Linked DNA regions of Homo sapiens: region 1 is linked to region 2. Evidence: fine-mapped expression QTL. A gene starts in region 2. The other region holds a variant in brackets. All regions are shown on one strand. Distances are between the middles of the regions.

Evidence for each region.
Region 1: its variant is fine-mapped to the expression of SLC28A3 in esophagus muscle (GTEx, PIP above 0.99). The same link has a PIP of 0.9 or more in gastroesophageal junction, lung and testis.

The regions. Positions count from the first base shown.
Region 1 is chr9:84,365,780-84,371,159 of GRCh38, forward strand. It overlaps a transcript of SLC28A3 not described here. Among named protein-coding and RNA genes, the nearest start is that of SLC28A3, 28 kb to the left of the region's middle. The variant C/T (reference allele first, on the strand shown) is at 2,210.
Region 2 is chr9:84,337,795-84,343,174 of GRCh38, forward strand. SLC28A3 (solute carrier family 28 member 3) reads right to left here and starts at 2,964. Exons shown (of 18, transcript NM_001199633.2): 1 at 2,780-2,964. The coding sequence starts at 2,839.

The DNA.
Region 1 (5,380 bases), 28 kb after region 2:
GTGGCTTACACCTGTAATCCCAGTACTATGGGAGGCTGAGGTGGGAGGATCACCTGAGGTTGGGAGTTCGAGACCAGCCTGACCAACATGGAGAAACCCTGTCTCTACTAAAAATACAAAATTAGCCAGGCGTGGTGGCACATGCCTGTAATCCCAGCTACTTGGGAGGCTGAGGTGAGAGAATTGCTTGAACCCAGGAGGCAGAGGTTGTGGTGAGCCAAGATCGTGCCATTGCACTCCAGCCTGGGCAACACGAGTGAAACTCCATCTCAAAACAAAAAAACAAAAAAAAGATTGGGTGCATTCGGGGTGGTATGGCTGTAAACTGACTGTATTTTCAAACAGCCTGGCTTCAAGCTCACTAATTCTTTCTTCTGCTTGATCAATTCTGCTATTAAGATTCTGATGCATTCTTCAATATGCCAGTTGCATTTTTCAGCTCCAGAATTTCTGCTTATTTTAAACTATTTCAATCTCTGTGTTAAATTTGTCTGATAGAGTTCTGACCCTTCTGTGTTATCTTGAATCTCTTTTAGTTTCCTCAACACAGCTATTTTGATTTTTCTGTCTGAAAGGCCAAATATCTCTGTTTCTCCAGGATTGGTCCATGTTGGCTTATTTAGTTCATTTGGTGAAGTCTTGTTTTCCTGGATGGTGTTGATGCTAGTAGATGTTCTTTGGTGTCTGGGCATTGAAGAGTTAAGTGTTTATTGTAGTCTTCACTGTCTGGGCTTGTTAGTACCTGTCCTTCTTGGGAAGGGTTTCCAGATATTTGAAAGGTCTAGAGTGTTGTAATCTAAGCTATATCTGCTTTGGGGGACACCCCAAGCTCAGCAACACTGTGGTTCTTGCAGACTTGTAGAGGTACTTCCTTGATGGTCTTGGACAAGATCTAGGAGAATTCTTTGAATTACCAAGCAGAGACTCTTGTTCTCTTCCCTTACTTTCTCCCAAACAAACAGAATCTCTCTCTCTGTTCTGAGCCACCTAAAGCTGGGGGTGGAGCGACACAAGCACCTCTGTGGCCACCACCACTGTGACTGTGCTGGGTCAGCCCTGAAGCCAGCACAGCCCTGAGTCTCACCCAAGACCTTCTGTAACCACTTCCTGGCTACTGCCTATGTTCTGTCAAGGCCCTGGGGCTCTACAGTCAACAGGTGACAAGGCTAGTCAGGCCTGTGTCCTTCCCTTCAGGTCAGCAAGCTCCCCCAGGCCTTTGGTGGGTCCAGAGGTGCTGTCTGGGCCTCAGGGAGTAGAATGAAAACCTTAGAAGTCTACCTGCACTGTGGCTGAGCTGGCACTCAAACCATAAGACACAGTGCTTCCCACTCTTCCCTCCCTTTTCCAAAGGCAGAGGAGCCTCACTTCATAGCCACCACCACCGCAGGCCACGGGGAGTACTCCACAGGAAGTACTGCCATACTACCGCCAATATTCTCTTAAGGCCCAAAGTCTCTTAAGTCAGCTGGTGGTGAATGCTGCCTGGCCTGGGACTCACCCTTCAGGGCAATGGGCTCCCCTCTGGCCCAGGGCAGGTCCAGAGATATCCACAAGCCAGGTCCTGAAATATGTGACCCCAAAAGCCTGCCTGGTGCTTTGCCCATTTGTGGCTGTGCTGGTATCTGAAGCTAGCAAGTTTCAGAGGCTCACCCTAGGCCCTTGATTGAAGGGGTCCTGCCCCTCCACACCTGTGGGTGTTTCTCGTCAGGTGGAGACGAGAGACTGAGAAAAGAAATAAGACACAGAGACAAAGCATAGAGAAAGAACAGTGGGCCCAGGGGACCCGCACACTCAGCATGCGAGGACCTGCACCGGCGCTGGTCTCTGAGTTCCCTCAGTATTTATTGATTTCTATTTTTTACTATCTCGGCAAGGGGAGTGTGGCAGGAGAACAGAGTGATGATGGGGAGAAGGTCAGCAGGAAAACATATGAGCAAGTAATCTGCATCATAAATAAGTTCAAGGGAAGGTACTGTGCCCGGATGTGCACGTAGGCTAGATTTATGTTTCTCTTTACCCAAACATCTCAGTGTAGCAAAGAGTAACAGAGCAGTATCACTGCCAGCATATCTCGCCTCCAGCCATAGGGCGGTTTTCTCCATCTCAGAGTAGAATGAATGGTCGGCTTCACACGGAGACATTCCATTCTCAGGGACATGCGGGAAACAGAGGCCTTCCTCTTATCTCAACCGCAAAGAGGCCTTCCTCT[C/T]TTACTAATCCGCCTCAGCACAGACCCTTTATGGGTGTCGGGTTGGGGGATGGTAAGGTCTTTCTCTTCCCATGAGGCCATATCTCAGGCTGTCTCAGTGGGGGGAAACCTTGGACAATACCCAGGCTTTCTTGGGCAGAGGTCCCTGTGGCTTTCCACAGTGCATCGTGTCCCTGGTTAATAAAGGACGGAGAATGGAGATGACTTTTACCAAGCATACTGCCTGCAAACATATTGTTAACAAAGCACATCCTGCACAGCCCTAAATCCCTTAAACCTTGATTCAATACAGCACATGTTTCTATGAGCACAGGGTTGGGGCTAAAGTTACAGGTTAACAGCATCTCAAAGCAGAACAATTTTTCTTAATATGATCAAAATGGAGTTTCTTATGTCTTTCTTTTACTACATAGACACAGTAACAGTCTGATCTCTCTTCTTTTCCCCCACACTGATACAGTACCTGGGTATCGCTGCTGGTTGTTCAGGTCCCAAGCGCTCTTCATTTAGCAGATGCTGAATGCTGGCCGGACTGGGTCCTTTCCTTCAAGGTGGCAGGTTCACTTCTGACTCAGGGTGTGTCTAGAAATGTCATCTGGGAGCTGGGGCCTGGAATGGGGGCCTCACAACTCTGCCCAGTGCCCTATCCTGCTGTGGCTGAGTTGGCATCCAAGATGCAAGACAAAGTCCTCCCCACTCTTCCTTCTCTCCTCAAGAGGAAGGAAGGAGTGTCTTATGCAGCGGAGGGCTGTGCAGCCTGGAGTTAGAGGAGGGGCACCCCAGCTGGTGTCTCAGTATGTCACATGCCACACCCCTGCCCCCCCACCAAGTCCACTGTCTCTGGGCCCAGTTCAGCCCTAGGACATGAAGTCATGTCAGAAGAACTGCAGGCTGGTCAGGGTGGAGGAACTGGGGAGAGGGGGTAGAAGATGAAGTCATGCCAGGCGTGGTGGCTCACATGTGTTATCCTAGCATTTTGAGAGGCCGAGGCAGGTGGATCACTTGAGGTCAGGAGTTTGAGACCAGCCTGGCCAACATGATGAAACCCTGTCTCTACTAAAAATACAAAAATTAGCCGGGCATGGTGCTGGGCACCTATAATCCCAGCTACTCAAGAGGCTGAGGAAGGAGAATTGCTTGAACCCGGAGCGGGGCGGAGGTTGCAGAGAGCAAAGATCATGCCACTGCACTCCAGCCTGGGCGACAGAGCAAAACTCTGTCTCAAAAAAAAAAAAAAAGAAGATGCAGTCAGATGAAGATGGACTCTGTAGGGCATGGCATGATCACATTTACTTTTTTTTTTTTTTTTTTTTTGCCTAAGATTTGCAGCCCTTACGGCCTAGACTGTCTTTAAGGTTTTTTAGAGTCCCAGAGCACTGTAGCCCTCAGTGGTGAGGTTTGTGGGAACTCAAGTTCAGACAGCTGGAATAGGCGATTCCCCTCTGGCTAGGGCTGGTTTGAATGCTCCCCCAATAGGTGGGTGTTAGCTGAGTTTGGTTTAGTTTTCCTTTCTGCTCTAACAGAACAGCACTGAGTTCAATGCCTTACAACTGCTGTTTACTCCCTCCCTCAGTGCCCAGAGACGCGCTCCGCACCATGCTACTGCTGGGGTCAAGCGTGGAATGGAGGGGTGGGGGTACTTTGAGGGCTCATGTGATTTTTTGGTTCTTTTTTTTTTAACTTTTAAGTTCAGGGGTAATGTGCAGGTTTGTTATATAGGTAAACTTGTGTCACAGCGGTTTGTTGTACAGATTATTTCATCACCCAAGTATTAAACCTATTATCCATTTGTTATTTTTCCTGATCCTCTCCTTCCTCCAGCCCTCCACCCTCCAGTAAGCCCCGGTGTCTGTTGTTCCCCTCTTTATGTCCATATGTTCTCATCATTTAGTCCCCACTTATAAGTGAGAACATGTAGTATTTGGTTTTCTGTTCCTGCATTAGTTTGCTAAGGATAATGGCCTCCAGCTCCATCCATGTTCCTGCAAAGGATATGATGTCATTCTTTTTTATGGATGCATAGTATGCTATGGTGTATAGATATTGTATTTTTTTAATCCAATCTACTATTCATGAGCATTGAGGTTGAGTCCATGTCTTTGCTGTTGTTAACAGTGCTGCAATGAACATATGTGTGCATGTGTCTTTATAATAGAAGGATTATATTTCTTTGGGTATATACCCAGAAATGGGATTGCTGCATCAAATGGTAGTTCTCTTTTTAGATCTTTGAGGAATTGCCACGCTGTTTTCCACAATGGCTGAACTAATTTACACACCCACCAACAGTGTATAAGCATTCCTTTTTCTCTACAACTTCACCAACCCCTGTTACTTTTTGTGTTTTTAATAATAGCCACTCTGACTGGTGTGAGATGGTATCCATCGTGGTTTTGATTTGCATTTCTCTAATGGTCAGTGATGTTGAGCTTTTTTTCACATGCATGTTGGCCACATATATGTTTCTTTTGAAAAGTGTCTGTTCATGTCCTTTGCCCACTGTTTAATGGGGTTGTTTGTCTTCTTGTAAAATTTAAGTGCCTTATAGATGCTGGATAATAGACCTTTGTCAGATGCATAGTTTGCGAAATGTTTCTCCCATTCTGTGGGTTGTCTTTTTACTCTGTTGATGGTTTATTTTGCTGTGGAGAAGCTCTTTAGTTTAATTAGATCTCGTTTGTCAATTTTTGCTTTTGTTGCAATTGCTTTGGGCATTTTCATCATGTAATTTTTGCCTGTTCCTATGTCCATAATGGTATTGTCTAGGTTGTCTTCCAGGGTTTTTATAGTTCTTAGTTTCACATTTAAGCCTTTAATTCATCTTGAGTTAATTTTTGTATGTAGTGTAAGGAAGAGGTCCAGTTTCAATAGTCCGCACATGGCTAGCCAGTTATTCTAGCACCATTTACTGAATAGGGAGTCCTTTCCCCAGTGCTTGTTTTTGTTGACTTTGTCGAAAATTAGATGGTTGTAGATGTGTTGTCTCATTTCTGGGCTCTATATTCTGTTCCATTGGTCTATCTGTCTGTTTTTGTACAAGTACCATGCTATTTGGTTACTGTAGCCCTGATGTATAGTTTGTAGTAGTATAGTTTGAAGTTGGGTAGCGTGATGCCTCCAGCTTTATTCTTTTTGCTTAGAATTGCCTTGGTTATTTGAGGTCTTTTTTTG
Region 2 (5,380 bases):
AAAAAAAAACCCTAACATTCATTTCTATCGTTGGTTACAAAATCCACTCTCATGTATGAAGTGTGCTCTAGCTGTGAAATCCTTTCTTGGAGGTGAGATCATTTCTCTCTTATAACCCATATCACTGACTTTGTGCTCCTGTTTAACCTTTCCCACTGGAGTACTAGCTCCATGAAAACAGCAATTGGTGCTCCCTTCTTTGAGGAACAGTCCAGATGAGAGCCTGTCCAGGTAATCCATAGATATGCATAACCATTGCACCTGCACCAGGTCTTACAGGCACAGGCCTTTTGGGAACCCATATCAGCATTTCAAGCTGTGAAAGTAGTTCTACTTAGTAAAATTAGAACTTTGGTCTACCAAGGGCACTCTTAATATTTGAAGAAGAAAAATGAATTTCTAGCACAATTCACAGACTAGGACAAGGTGAATAAGTAAGCATCCTAACTTATTTGGAAGTCCTGGTGGCATGTTAATGCATATTTAATAATGCGAGTGAAGTAGCACATATTTTACAATCAATTAATTTTCCTTAAAGAAGATAATGTAGCAGGAGAGCTGAATGTCAAACAAGGTAAGACTCATACTTATTAACTTGGCAGGAGTTATGAGGCCTCTGATTCTCTTGAAAGACAAATTGTCTTCACTATTTTGATTTTGAAATGTAGAAATTCAAATTTCAATCAATCCAATGAGTAAGGATGACAGGAAATTTTACAGAACTAGGAGGAAGCTTCCTTTCATTTTTCCTTCTTTTTATTGGGGCAGGTGTAGGGGGATGTTTCCCCCACAAAACAGCAGTTTTGCTAGAAGACAGTGAGGGATCACCACCGTTGTGTGCCCTCCTCCCTGGGAGCAGCCAGTTGCTGTGACATGGACCTTCTCTATTGCAGATATATTTTCTTGCTGCCATACTTCCTCTGACTCTATCCAATTCCATCCTTTCCATTCTCTGGAATCAGAATGGGCCCATGCTTTATGCTTTTCCCCCTCACTTAGCCCTTAGAGAAGAGATCAGGATGTGCCACCCTCCAAATGCCCACATTTTGGCACAAGAATATTTTGAACTGAAGGCTATGAAAAAGAAAGCAGACACAGAAAGAGCTCTCTGCCCTCCCCCATCCCCCATCTTCCTAAAAGCAGCACATTTATTGATATTTCCCTTGCACAGGTGTCCCGCTTGCTCATACAAGGAAGAGAGCAACCCTTATCACCAAAGACAGAGATGCCGCTGAGATAAATCTGCATGAACAAACCTCGATAAATTAACCCTTATCTTCCATTATTTCCACCTCCCACCCCCACTTTATTGTCCCTAAAAGCATAACCCTCTTTTCCTTTGTCTAGTCATTTCACTATTTGCCGTGCTTTGTTTTAATGGTATATAAGCTCCTGAGTCTATTAGGTTTTTCCGTTTCTTTTATGTGAGGCTCTCATACATGTGAGATTTTATTTTATTATTATTATTTTTTTGAGACTGAGTCTCCCTCTGTCAACCAGGCTGGAGTACAGAGGCACGATCTTGGCTCACTGCAGCCTCTGCCTCCCAGATTCAAGTGATTCTCCTGCCTCGGCCTCCCGAGTAGCTGGGACTACAGGCATGTACCACCATGCCCGGCTGATTTTTGTATTTTTAGTAGAGATGGGGTTTCACTATGTTGGCCAGGCTGGTCTCAAATTCCTGACCTCAAATGATCAGCCCGCCTCAGCCTCCCAAAGTGCTAGGATTACAGGCATGAGGCACCACTGCCAGCCACATGTGAGATTTTAAATATGAATAAAATTTGCGTGCCTTTTCTCCTGCTAATCTGTTTTATGTTGGTTTAATTTGCAGGCCTCAGGCACTCAACCTAAGAGGGTAGATGAAGTTGTTTCCTCTCCTACACTTGTGACCTATAAGTGGTAACCCGATGCCTACTCATGGAGATGGGCATCACTGTGACCATGGGACAGATGATCAAACTTGGGCTCTGGGAAGTTACAGGAATTTGTGGGTGCTGGAGTCTGAACTCCTGTCAAAGCCCTTTTACCTCCCTCTTTCCTTTCTTGGCTAGCACCTCAAAGTTTTGTTTTGCCCATCTAGCAGACCGTAAAGTCCAAGGGATTGTTGACACTTGCCGGTGCAGGCTTCCCATCTTCTCCAGAGCGCCCATGCTGAGTGTCAGCTAAGGAAAGGAAGCACACCTAAAAACAGCCCTGGAAATCCCCATCCCAGACCCAGTCAAAATAGCCTGGTGTTTCTGACAGGTCTCCTTCTATGTCTCTGCGGGCACCCAGCCTCGGGCTGAGCAGCATTAATCACTCAGTGAGTTTTGGTTGATGAAGTGAGACTGATTTGCGTAATCCAGCTGCTCTGGGGCAGGTACCGGGGCCATCTGACAGGGGCTCCAGGACTTGGCTTGAGTAAAAGGAACCCTGAGACACTACCCCAGCCAGGATCTAAATTCCCCCATTTTTCCCTTCTCACCAGTTCTTTGGAAAAGTGCCTGAAGATAAATAATGGACCCCTGCTGTGAGCCAGAAGGGAAAAAAGGCAAGAGAAGAAGGCTGTCTTGTTTCTAAGTGACCATAGGGATCACAACACATCGATTAAAAGAGACTTTTCAGGTTTGTCAACCCAGAAGAGCCCAAGAAGAAAAAATAATGGGCTTAAAGTGTGCCGTTAAAAATCGTATTGTCCTGATAATCTCCCTGCTTAGGTAAGAAACTTGCCAAGGGGCTAAGGAAAGGGCAGCTTTTCCACTGAAGGCCTTTAACATAAGAGGAAAGCTCTGCTCACCTGGAAGCCCACGTTGCTGTAGCCCTCAGCTCTGGGGGCTGCTGTACTCCTCAGCTCCATGCTCTTTTTGCTGCTGGCTGGCTCTGGTCTGGAGGTCCTTTGTACCTGGGAAAAAGCACCAGTCTCTGCTGATGTCAGAAAGCCACCTGCTGTTACAGGGACCTGGGCACAGCTTGCTTCAGTTTGGAAACTTCTGCAATAATCTCCTGAATGACTAGGGCTGACACCTGGTTGGGGTGGGGCAGAGAGGCGGGCGGGTTGGCGGGGTGGAGGCATCTAGTGCTGGCCCGCCCACCTTATTAATCTTTTCCTTTATCCCCATTTTTGGCATCCTATTTGCACTCCTGGGGAGAAAACTCTTGTGGTGCACAAAACAGAAAAGGACACTTTCTTTTTCTTTCTTTCTTTCTTTTTTTTTTTGAGATGGAGTCTCAAAAAAAAAAAGGCTGGAGTGCAGTGACGCAATCTCGGTTCACTGCAACCTCTGCCTCCCAGGTTCAAGCAATTCTCCTGCCTCAGCCTCTCAAGTAGCTGGGATTACAGGTGCATGCCACCACACCTGGCTGACTTTATTTTTAGTAGAGACGGGGTTTCACCATGTTGGCCAGGCTGTTCTTGAACTCCTGACCTCAAGTGATCCACCTGCCTTGGCCTCCTAAATTGCTGGGATTACAGGCATGAGCCACCGTGCCCAGCCAGAAAAGGACACGTTCTCTATAGTGCTTAGTGAAATCCTCTGTTTTCCTGTGGGTGGTGTTAAAGACTAGGAGTGGTGGTGGGGTGGAGGGTGAGTGAACACAGGATATAAGGTCATGCCGCCCTCAGTGATCACCTACTGTATACCAGGGATGGATAGATGGATAGATACATAGACAGATAGGTAGGTAGGTAAGGGTCTTGGCTCTTCTTCCGAACAACTCAAAATTCTATACTGAAGTACAGAAAAGTTAACAATTTGTTTAGTGTCATTTAGCTAATAAAGGGATAATGAGAATTCAAATTCAAGTTTGGTTAATTCCAAAACCTTTTATTACATCCCTGCTTCAGACTGGGCTGCTTTCAAAAATCCAGCTTACAGAAATGCCGATATGTGACAAGTAAATGAAAGGTGACCAGCTATTCAATTATCAAAAGTGAATAGAAGTGCTTTGTTTTCATAAAGCAATTCACTTTGCTTTATGAAAATATTAGCTGTAGAATTCTTTTAAAATAGGGATTTTCCCCCCTAGTACAATTTAAAATACTGCAAAACTGTGGACAAAAGAATGGAAAAGGCCTGGTGCGGTGGCTCACGCCTGTAATCCCAGCACTTTGGGAGCCCAAGGCGGGTGGATCACTTTAGGCCAGGAGTTCAAGACCAGCCTGGCCAACATGGCGAAACTCCATCTCTACTAAAAATACAAAAATTAGCCAGGAGTGATAACGTGCGCCTGTAGTCCCAGCTACTCGGGAGGCTGAGGCGGGAGAATCGCTTGAACCCAGGAGACACAGATTGCAGTGAGCCGAAAACGCACCGCTGCCTCCCATCTGGATGACAGAGTGAGACCCTGTCTCAAAAAAAAAAAAAAAAAGAAAAGAAAAAGAAAAAGAAAAAGTAAGAAAATACCAAGTATTATGAGTGGTTATTTCTCGGTTTTTAATTTTATGGGCAGTTGGTGTTTTTTTTTTCTCCTTCAAATGCTGCTGAGTTTTCTATAAAGAGAATGATTTACTTTTATTATTGTTAACCTAAAGGAAAAAACGGAGACAAACTTAATGTAAGTATAGAGTTTATTTGGTCTAAGTTTGAGATTGCAACTTGGGAGCACATATTCAAGTTGCTCTGAATATACACTTAGTAGCAGTTACAAGTAGATTCTTGTGTGTGTGTGTGTGTGTTCTGTTGCCCAGGCTGGAGTGCATGATCATGGCTTGCTGCAACCTTGACCTCCTGGGCTGAAGCTATCCTCCTGTCTCAGCCTCCCGAGTAGCTGGGACTACAGACAGGTGCCATCACCCATGGCTAAATTTTTTTTTTTTTTTTGGTAGAACTGGGGGCCTCACTATGTTGCCCAGACTTGTCTTGAACTCCTGGGCTCAAGCAATCTTCCCACCTGCCTTGGTTTCCAAAAGTGCTGGGATTACAGGCACTGTGCCTGGCCACAAGTGAATTTTAAAGGAAAAGAAGGAGTTTCTGAGTTGTTTACCAATTATTTACATTAAAATAACATAAGCTATTGATTGGCTATACATTGCTATTTGTATCACACATTCTAGGAACAGAAAGGCAGCCAGTCAGGAACAAAATTCCTTTAAAACAATTGCCCCTGGCCAGGCACAGTGGCTCCCGCCTATAATCCCAGCACTTTGGGAGGCCGAGGCAGATGGATCATGAAGTCAGGAATTCGAGACCAGCCTGGCCAACATGGTGAAACCCTGTCTCTTCTAAATACTACAAAAATTAGCCAGGCATGGTGGCACATGCCTGTAGTCCCAGCTACTTGGGAGGCTGTGGCAGGAGAATTGCTTGAACCCAGGAGGTGGAGGTTGTGGTGAGTCGAGTGGAGGTTGTGGTGAGTCGAGATCACGCCACCGCACTCCAGACTGGGTGACAGAGCAAGA